Regions from separate parts of the Homo sapiens genome. Here region 1 is linked to region 2. The links come from fine-mapping of genetic effects on gene expression. A gene starts in region 2. The other region holds a variant in brackets. All regions are shown on one strand. Distances are from middle to middle. Region 1 overlaps PNLIPRP3 (pancreatic lipase related protein 3). Region 2 holds the start of PNLIPRP3 (pancreatic lipase related protein 3).

The links.
Region 1: its variant is fine-mapped to the expression of PNLIPRP3 in sun-exposed skin (GTEx, PIP above 0.99).

Annotation. Positions count from the first base shown.
Region 1 is chr10:116,452,566-116,457,954 of GRCh38, reverse strand. It overlaps PNLIPRP3 (pancreatic lipase related protein 3), which reads right to left. Exons shown (of 12, transcript NM_001011709.3): 5 at 2,125-2,233. Among named protein-coding and RNA genes, the nearest start is that of PNLIPRP3, 27 kb to the right of the region's middle. RefSeq lists an enhancer at 5,051-5,389. The variant C/TC (reference allele first, on the strand shown) is at 2,157.
Region 2 is chr10:116,424,793-116,430,181 of GRCh38, reverse strand. PNLIPRP3 (pancreatic lipase related protein 3) reads right to left here and starts at 2,335. Exons shown (of 12, transcript NM_001011709.3): 1 at 2,121-2,335. The coding sequence starts at 2,169.

The sequences.
Region 1 (5,389 bases), 28 kb before region 2:
TCTCAGAGGAATATAGATTAAAACATCCACATAATATTAATTCTTTGGACATTCAGAAAACCTTTAAAAATCTGTTTTCTATTTACCCAGCAGGATAATTCACCTGATGGGAAAAACTAGAGTTAAATAGTATCTGATTTTTGAAAAAACTTAATAAAAACAAAATCTCTTTGAATTGATCATAACCCAGTATGAATTGTAAATGCAGTTATGTGTTCTGCTTCACTCAGCCTGCCTGAGGCTGTGAGGCCCCATGAGGTTCCATCTTCAAAAGAGGAACTCATTCCTTCTTTTTTCTGGGCTTGAAAATTGACCACAAAGGGTCACATAATGACTTCAGTGAAAAAGTTCAGTTTTTATTATTCTAAATAAGAATGGTGGTGGTGGTGGTGGAGGTGAGTGAGGAGGATTTAGGAGCAGAGAGTTAGGAGAAGAGAGATGACTTATAGCAGGAATAAGCCTGTTATATCAACAGATTGCAGAGACAAAATAATCCCAATTTGGACTTCTAGGTATTTTTTTAAAAACTGTGTTCTAAATTGAGATTTGAATTTAAAGTGTGCATGTATGTGTGTGTGTGTGAGAGAGAGAGCGAGCACGTACACACACATGCACACAGAGCACAGCAGTTTAACAAAGAGAAAATACGCTTCTGTGGCCAAGCCTGGAGTCAATGCAGTAAGGAGGCTTTCTGTTAAAAATAACAGGCTCATCCATAATTATAAGACCATGTGATATAATATTTGTGTTTTCAAACACAAAAGAGGCACATGTCAAAGGGTATGAGAAGCACAGAGAATTAATTCCTGCCTGAGGAGGAAACATTTGAGATGAATCTTGACAAATGGACAGTGAATGCTCAGCAAGAGGGACAACAGCACGTGCAAAGGCACAGAGCATGAAAAACTGTGATGAAACATGACAAGTTTACGTGACAAGCTAAGAGGCTTCACACAAGGAGACACCCTGAGAGATTTGGAGCAGTGGAGTGGCATGGCCTGCACCTGGAAAGATAAGCCTGGCAGTATTTGTAGAAGACTAGGCTGGGGCACCAGCGGGGACCAAGGCCAAAATGCAGGCAAGAGATGAGGGACTGAGCCAGGACAATGACCAGAGGATGGACAGGGAAAAGGCAGATGAAGGAGACGTGGGGCTTGCTTACTGGCTGTTGGTGGGGGGATGCAGAGGGAGAGGCCAGCCCCGCCTGTTGGTAAAGGAGCTGTTGCTTTGACCTTCATCCATCTCACACAATTGGTTTGGAAAACAGAATGTGGGGAGGAGACATGATTAATTATTATACCCCCAAACCCAATTCATGCTATATACTTTGCTCCGCAACTTATTTTTAGACTTAACGGTATATCCAGGGATAATATTAAAAATGGTAACAACTGAGTAAGCTGCAGTCCAAGTGTGTCAGGAACGTCCAGGACAATCAGTGGGATTCAAACTCATTCTTTTTAAAAATAACTTTTAAAAATTGATATATAATAGTTGTCCATATTTTGGGGGCACATGTGGTATTTTGAGACATGTATACAATGTGTAATGATCAAATCAGGGTAATTGGGACATCCATCGCCATAATCATTCATCTTTTCTTCGTGTTGGGAACATTACAGTCCTTCTCTTCTAGCTATTTTGAAACATGTAATAAATTATTGTTAACTGTAATTTCTGTATCATGTACTAGAATGTACTCCTTCTAGCTATGGATTTTTGTACCTGTTAACCAACTTCTCTTTAGCCTCCCCTCTCTTCTTCCCTTCCCAGCCTCTCATAACCACCATTCTACTCCTACGTCTAGGTAAACCTCACTCTTTGCATTACTGGTATGAAATCCCAAAGGATGGAATGTGTTATAATTGCTTCAACCATTCAATTGCGGGTGAGGGAACACATAGTTTCTCTTACTTTGTCACCACAGACAACGCTGCAATGAACCCCCTTGAAGCGAATCTGCACATTTCTGCTCTGAAAACACGTTCACGTTTTATTTCATTGGAATCACATTTTGTAGTATCTTATATTTTCTTCTGCAGTATTACTTGGTGTTCAGATACTTGGTAGTGTGTGTAAACAATATTTAAACACACTCAAGGCCCAACTGCAGGGCATGCTTACCAGTTATTCTTCCAAGGCCTGGTATCCTTGAC[C/TC]CAGCTTCCCCAGCCAGGTGTGCTCCCAAGCTGTGGCCAATCAAGTGCACTTTAGAAGGGGAATATTCAAATTTTTTCTGAAAGAATTGTTTAACAGAATAAGTATTTTAAAAACAGCGGTGGAATAGCTTAAATATGCTTTAAAAATAGAAAAAAAAAAGGATCAACATGGTTCTCCCTTTTGCACATAAGACAGGGACTGGTAAAGTCACAAAGTGACACCTCTGCCTACATCCTTATCCAACTGAAGGAGAACAGATGAGCTTGGAAGAATGCCTTCTATAGGAGCTCTCCTCCTTGTGCTAAGGGGCTGGCCTGTGGTCCTTGGAAACAGGAGAACAGCCCTAACAACTATATTCGTGGCTTCTAGCTCCATGCTGATCCTTCCTGAGGCCCAAATCCTTTCAGCATGCTCACAACATGCATCAAAGGCAGCTCATTCCTACAGTTATCCACCTTGCCTGTGTCTGTATCCCAGGTTAAGGCAACACTAGAAAATGTATGGGATAACTTTGGTTTTAAAACAGGAGCTTTTAAGAATATTCACAAACTCAAATAACTCAATATCAAGAAAGCAAATGATCCAATTGAAAATGGGCAAAGGATTTGAATAGTTATCAAAAGAAGACATACAAATGGCCAACAGATTTATGAAAAAATGTTGAACATCCTTAATCATTAGAGAAATGCAAATCAACATCACAATGAGATATCACCTCACATCTGTTAGAATGTCTCTTATAAATTAAACAAGAGCTGTCAAAGATTTGGAGAAAAGGGAAAACTTGAACACTGTGGAGGGAACGTAAATAGGTATAGCCACTATGGAGAATAATATGGAGGTGCCTTGAAAAACTAAAAATAGAATTACTATATGATCTATCAATCTCACTTCTGGGAATATATGCAAAGGTATCAAAATCATTATGCTGAAGAAGAGATATTTGCACTTCCATTTCATTGCAGCATTATTCTCAATAGCCGAAATATGGAATCAACCTGTGTCCATCAATGAATTAATGGATAAAGAAAATGTGTTATACCTGCACAATGAAAAAGGAAATTCTGTCATTTGTGACAACATGGAAGACATGCTAAGTGAAAGAAGCCAGGCATAGAAAGACAAACACTGCATGACCTCACTTAATATGTGGAATTTTAAAAAGTCAAACTACGTAAGTAGAGGATAATAGTAGTTATCAGGGACTGAGATTGGGGTGTGGTGAATAGGGAGATATTGATTAGTGGGTACAAAGCTTCAGTTACACAGGAGGAATAAGTTTCTGAGATTTATTGCTTAGCATTAATAGTAATGCATTGTATATTTCAAAATTGCTAAGAGTAGGTTTAAAACACTCTCATTATTAAAAAATGGTACATCTGCCAGGCGTGGGGGCTCACGCCTGTAATCCCAGCACTTTGGGAGGCTGAGGCGGGCAGATCACGAGGTCAGGAGTTCGAGACCAGCCTGACCAACATAGTGAAACCCATCTCTACTAAAAAAATAGAAAAATTAGCCAGTCGTGGTGGTGTGTGCCTGTAATCCCAGCTACTCAGTAAGCTGAAGCAGGAGAATCACTTGAACCCAGAAGGCAGAGGTTGCAGTGAGCTGAGATCAGGCCACTGCACTCCAGCCTGGGCAACAGAGCGAAACTCCGTCTCAAATCTCAAAAAAAAAAGAATGAGATCATGTCCTTTGCAGGGACACAGATGAAGCTGGAAGCCATCATTCTCAGCAAACTAACACCAGAACAGAAAACCAAACACTGAATGTTCTCACTCGTAAGTGGGAGTTGAACAATGAGAACACATGGACACAGGGAGGGAACAACACATCGTGCGGCCTGTTGGGGGTGGGGGACAAGGGGAGGGAGAGCATTAAGACAAATACCTAATGAATGCAGGGCTTAAAACCTAGATGATGGGTTGATAGGTGCAGCAAACCATCACGGCACGTCTATACCTATGTAAAAAACCTGCACATTCTGCACATGTATCCCAGAACTTAAATAGTGCTGGCATCTGCTTCTGGTGAGGCCTCAGGGAGCTTAGAATCATCGGGGAAGGCAAAGGAGGAGCTGGTGTATCACAGAGTGAGAGCAGGAGTAAAAGGCAAGTGGGGAGGGGCCGTGCTCTTTACAATCAGATCTTGTGTGAACTAACCGAGCAAGTACTCACTCATCACCAAGGGGGTGGCACTAAACCATTCATGAGAGATTCATCCCCATGATCTAATACCTCCCACTAAGCCCCATTTCCAAATTGGGGATGACATTTCAATATGAGATTTGGAGGGGACACACATCCAAACCATATCATTCCACTCCTGGCCCCCCTACACCTCATGTCCGTTTCACATTGCAAAATACAATCATCCCTTCTTACTCTTCCCCCAACATATTAATCATTCTAGCATCAACTCAAAGCTCAAAGTCAAAGTTCTCATCTGAGACTCAAGGCCAAGTTCCTTTTACCTATGAGCCTGTAAAATAAAAAACAAGTTATTTACTTCCAAGACATAAGGGAGGTACAGGAATTGGGTAAACAGTTCAATTCCAAAAAAGAGAAATTGGCCAAAAGAAAGAGGTAATAGGCCCCATGCAAATCTGAAACCCAGCAGGGCAGGCATTAAATCTTAAAGATCCAACATAATCCTTGACTCCATGTTCCATATTCTGGTGTGAGGAGTGGGATCCCAAGGCCTTGGGCAGCCCTGCCCCTGTGGCTTCTCTGGGTGCAACCCACATGCTGCTCTCTGGGGTTGGAGTTGAGTGCCTGCCAGTTTTTATAATCATGGATCTTCCAGTGGATCTAACATTCTGGGATCTGGAGGGCAGGAGCCCCTTCCCACAGATCCACTAGGCAGTTCCCCAGTGGGGACTCTGTGTGGGGGTTCCAACCCCACATTTCTTCTTGGCATTGCCTTAGTAGAGTTTCTCTGTGGGGGCTCTGCCCCTGCAGCAGACTTCTGCCTGGGCACACAGACTTATCTATACATCCTCTGAAATCTAGGTGGAAGCTGCCAAGCTTCCTTCACACTTGCACTCTGAGCATCTGCAGATTTAACACCACTTGAAAACTGCCAAGGCTCATGGCTTGCACCCTCCAGAGCTGTGTTCTAAGCTGTATCTGGGGCCCTAGTTGCTGAGGGTGGAGCCTGAGCAGCTGGGATGCAGGGAGCAGTGTCCTGAAGGCTGAGCAGGGCAGTGGCACCCTAGGCCTGGGTTCTGAAA
Region 2 (5,389 bases):
ATATCTGCCCTTCTATTTTGCCTTCACTCTGTTCACAAGAGATGAACTGTCTTTGTTTCTCGCAAAGGCAAACCTTCATCCTATTAAGACTCCATCTTCTCTCACCTACTGAGGGGTAAGGCACAACATTACTCCCTTCTCTTTCTCCTGCTTTACCAACTTTCCTCCTCTCTGCTGGATCATTCCTAGCCTCACACAAACATGCTGTTATTTCTTTCATCTTAAATTGACTTCTAGGATGCTGACTCTCCTAGGTTTCCTACCACTTCACTGAGTACTTCTTGGCAGTCTTGTTTGCTAGTTTGCCTTCATCTTCCTGATTTCTTAATGAGGAAGTGTCCTAGGACTCAGTAGTTCCATCTTCCTTCTCTACCTGCAGTCACTCCCTTGATGATCCTGTCTGTAGTCATGGCTTTAAATATCATCTCAGCAGATCAGGGCAAACTGCCTATTTCTTAATTCTGCCTTCACCAGTCTAACTGCTTTCAGCACTCAATTAGGACTGTCCTGGGGCAGGAGAATCATGCAAAATAGAATATAGTTCTTGAAATATGAAAACTAATGATAGTCCTATCTCCTTCATTTTTTATCCAATAGAGAAGAGCTGGAGGCCAGGGACTGAAAAACACTGAACTGAAAGTCAAGATTGGCCAATTCCACAAGCTAGCGCCAAGATGTTACACAACGAATCTCTCTGTGTTTTGTTTTCTTCATCTGTGTAAATAAGAGCGAACATTTATTGATTGCTCACTACTAATATGTCCCAAATCCCATGCCAAGCATTTTACATGAATTGCAGATTGAGTATCCCTTATCCAAAACGCTTGGGACCAGAAGTGTTTCAGATTTTGTGTTTTGGAATGTTTGCATATACACAATAAGATATCTTGGGGACAGGGTCCAAGTCTTAACACAAAATTCATTTATGTTTCATATATACCTTATACACATAGGCTAAAGGTAATTTTATACAGTATTTTAATAATTTTATGCATGAAACAAAGTTTGTTTTAAGTATTTGTATGTGAAATATTCTGCTTGTGGCATCATGTTAGTGCTTAAAATGTTTCAGATTTTGGAGAAGTTTAGATTTTAGATTTTTGGATTCGAGATGGTCAACTTGCATCTTATTTAATTGGCACAACCCTATAATTTTATTTTGGTTACTGTCCTGTTTCTACAGATCAATCATCTGGGCTTAGAAAGGTTAAGTACTTGTTTAAAGTTAAGCAACTACCAAGCAGCAGAACGAGGACTAAAACCCAAGAAGATTCAGAATTCAAACCGGTGGTTGAACTGAATGTTAGATGTGACGACTGTCTTCTTACCACCATACTATCTCAACCAACTACGTGATACTTTACAACAAAGGGGTTGATCTCTTTCAACATTAAAATTATTTGATTCTAGTTTGGTTAAAATAAATCAACTAATTTTAATGTTTGCTTATAGGCACAATATTAAACATGGATGGTAAAAGTAGCCAAAATCACTAACTCCTTACATTGTAATGTCTAAGGAGTCCATAGTATAAAGAGCAAACATGTCAATGAATACTGAGTTAATGTTTAAGAAATGTCCACAGACTAACAGCCCTCCAGAAAACTGTGACTGAAGTGGAAAAAAAATGGACATTCCAACTGACATTAATAATTAGTTAATTCATTCAATTATTGAGTATCTACTATGAGTCAGCTACAGAATTTGGAAATTTGTATATATTTTCTCATTTATTACTATGTACCCTTCTTAGAAATGAAGAAATTGAGACTTCAATGTCTAAGCCCATAAGACTAGTAAGTGGCAGAGCTAGCAGCCCAACACAAGACTGTCCGGCAACTCTTTTATATTGTTGGAAATAGATGCTTCTTTATGTTCATAAGACTCATTCAGTATTAAGTGATGCATTTTCCATTGATAATTTTATGTTAAGTGAAAAAATAAATAAATACAAAGAAATATAAGCAGCCAATATTTTAAACATATTCATAAAAACAATAAACTACTTAAGAATGAAATTAGCAATAGTAATTTCTAAAGAATAAGTTCATGTCAATTACATTTTAGATGTAAGTATACTCATTATTTTTAAAGAACTTATTATAAATTATGAATCTTACCTCTTGATGTGCCAAAGAACAAGAATGCAACAATCCAAATTCCAAGCATCTAAGCTGATTTTTTAAATCACATAAAAATCTTCTTGAAGATCTTTACTTGTAAAGTCACCTCACTATAAAATACTAAGTGGTTTTCCTCACAATGATGCAACTCAATGTTTAAACTCTACGTTTAAAAGAACATGTTATTCCACCTTATGCTCTGCAAAGTAAATAAAATTATCGGGGTGTGCCTTACATCTTATGATTGGCAATGGAAACTTCCAAGGTTTTGCTGTTTCATTATTAGTAATATTTTGGTTAAGCACAAACTGAGTCACTCTTGAAAGTTACTTTAAGGTTACAAGGTGTTAGATAATAAGCATTTAAAAGGTAATTTTTTTTTTCCAAACCAGGATTAGGCACTTTCAGAATATTTTTCCCTAACTCATTTCTGTGTGTAAGCATCCCAATTAATACAAACAGACCCTGCTATAAGATGTTCCGAGTTCAATAACAAACATAGCTAATCTTTTCCTCTTATCTGTGTGGCAGTATAATATGGGAGTTATCATTATTGTTTTCAGAGCCCGAATGCTGGGTCCAAATTCTGCCTCTGCCACTTATTAGCAGTGTGACCTTGGGCTAGTAAGCCTCACTATTCCTTTCCTTACCTGTAAAATGGGGATGATCGTGGTTCCTAGCTCATATGCTAAATAAGATGATTGAATTATTTATTGTCTGAATAGCACCTGGACATAGTAAGTACTATATTACCTGTTAATTTTTTGGTGCTGTCATTGTTCAACTATGTTAATGGGTGTATGGGCAAATTGATGTTCACATATAGCTAAATATAACCTTACATGATTGTACATAGGCTTCATGATATACTTTAACGTAATAGAAACTTGCCATTTTGGCTACTATGTTAACTTAAAGTGATGAGCAATTCAATCTACAGATATTCTTAGTCAGTTTCTCAATTTTTAAACGCTCATAGAAAATAGCTAACATTATTTCTTAGTTTTTCCTAACTTTTTGTTTCTGACTATTATAATATTAAAATTTCCAACATTTATGAGGCACAGCCTTTTCATAAAAACTTTGTTACATTATGCAAGAATTAGACAAAGAAGAGATTATGAACAAGAGTACTTCCAAGTCCTGGATGTTTTATTTGGTTGAAACCTTTCCTGGTATTCATGGCAGCCAGTCCACACTGGCATGCAGACCTGCAGTAATTAGAGAATTAACTATTCAACAGCACCAAGCAGTGTGCTGGACACGCTGTGAGTGCCCACACTATAGAAAAATCACCCTCTGAAAGCTTCACTAGTTACAACTGGCTGTTTTTTTTTCCAAGCAACACCTCAAGAATCAATGTTTTCAGCCATACCTGTAAGATAAGTATGAATAACATTTAATACATTCATCAGTAGGAGCTCTCAGAAGACTACATGTTATTTATATCTGCATCCCAAGTGACAAGCACAATGTCTGGGACTTAGTAGGTACTTAATAAGCATTTTTAAATTAAAAAGTACAAAGACCTACAATGATAATATAGGATATTTTTAAAAACCACATCCTTTTCTGTGTTTTTACAGCAATTTATAATGACTCTCTTATAACACTTAGGATATTATAGAATTGTTAGGTATTTACATTTTACTCTCCTCCTCCAGATCGAACTATTCTGAGACAAGCTGGGTTTTGTTCATCTCTGGGCCCCCAGCACATAGCAATAGGTCTATCATCACAGGCACTTGGTCAATATTTGTTGAAAGAAAAAGATAGCATTAGATTTCATTGATCTCATAGCATCCAAGGAAATTCTTACCCTAGAGAGATTATCATTCTGAGAGATGAAGACCCATACTTTAACAATTGTATTTAATGAGTGTCAGATACTAGTGAATCCATAAATGCTTGCTGCAATCGTTGTAGTTCTGCCTGAAAAATGTCCCATACAGGAGTTAACAATAGCTTTTAAAAGTTCATCACAAAATCCATTCTCTTTCCAAAACTCCCAGCCCAGCATTGCCAATACATTCTGGGCCTTTCAGATACTTTATCTGAAGCATAAAGTCATCATATCCAAATCTTAAGAAATGCTTTTCTCTCCAAAGAGCTCTTCTTCATGCCTTCCCTGTTCCTGTTATTAGAACTGCTATTATTTGAGTCACAAGCTGGAAACATTCACATCATCTTTGACACCCTTAAAGTCCCTGCCTCCCTCATTCCATGAGTCGAGCCAGGCCCTGTTGATCCTCCTTCAATGGTGTCTCCTTCATTCATTCCCTCCTGTCAGACTCACTGTCAACATCCACACTCAGATCTTCCTCTTATGCCTGAAACATCGTTGCTGGCCCAGGCTTCTCTCTTCTCAATGAGGCATCACAGATATTGTTCCCAGGTAAACCATCTGGAATCACATCTCTGATCACACTCTCCTCGAATGTCCCTATTGAATAAAGCTCAAATTACTTAACTTAGATCAAGGACTTTCTTGTCTTCTCCTTGGTCAACCATCTGAGCTGTAAAGTCCATGCCCTTCACCCATGTTGCTCCTGTCCACCTGCTGAGTGTTGGGCGTGCTGTTTCTTCTACTTTGACGGTCCTTCCTCGCCTTTTTCTATATATATCTACACCCCCGTCATAAATTCAAGCCCCAGTTCAAATGTGAACAATCTCTTTCATAAATATTTTTTCTGATCATCCTCAGTTGGTTAAGATTTCTCTAGTTTCTGAACACTCACTGCATTTTTTTATTTTTAATCTTTTATAACTTAAACATTATATTACTTATTTTTTACCCCCTTTAACTAAATTGTAAGCTTGAAAGCCAAGAGCATACATTTGTATGCTTGTTGGTACAGGTTTTTTCTAGAACACAGATCTGATCATTTTTCTAGGAGATAAAATCTAAACTCCTTAGCATTCCTGCAGGGCCTTTAGCAAACTGCCCCCACGTGCTTCTTTTACCACTTCCCCACTTTAAGCACCCTTCAAGCTGAACCACTTAGAACAGCAGTCCCCAACCATTTTGGCACCAGGGATCAGTTTTATGGAAGACAGTTTTTCCACGGGATGGGGTGGGAGGATGGCTTTGGGATGATTCAAGGACATTACATTTATTGCATACTTTATTTCTATTATTATTACATTGTAATATATAATGAGATAATTCTACAACTCGCATTAATTTAGAATCAGTGGGAGCCCTGAGCTTGTTTTCTTGCAACAAGGGTCCCATGTAGGGGTGATGGGAAACAGTGACAGGTCAT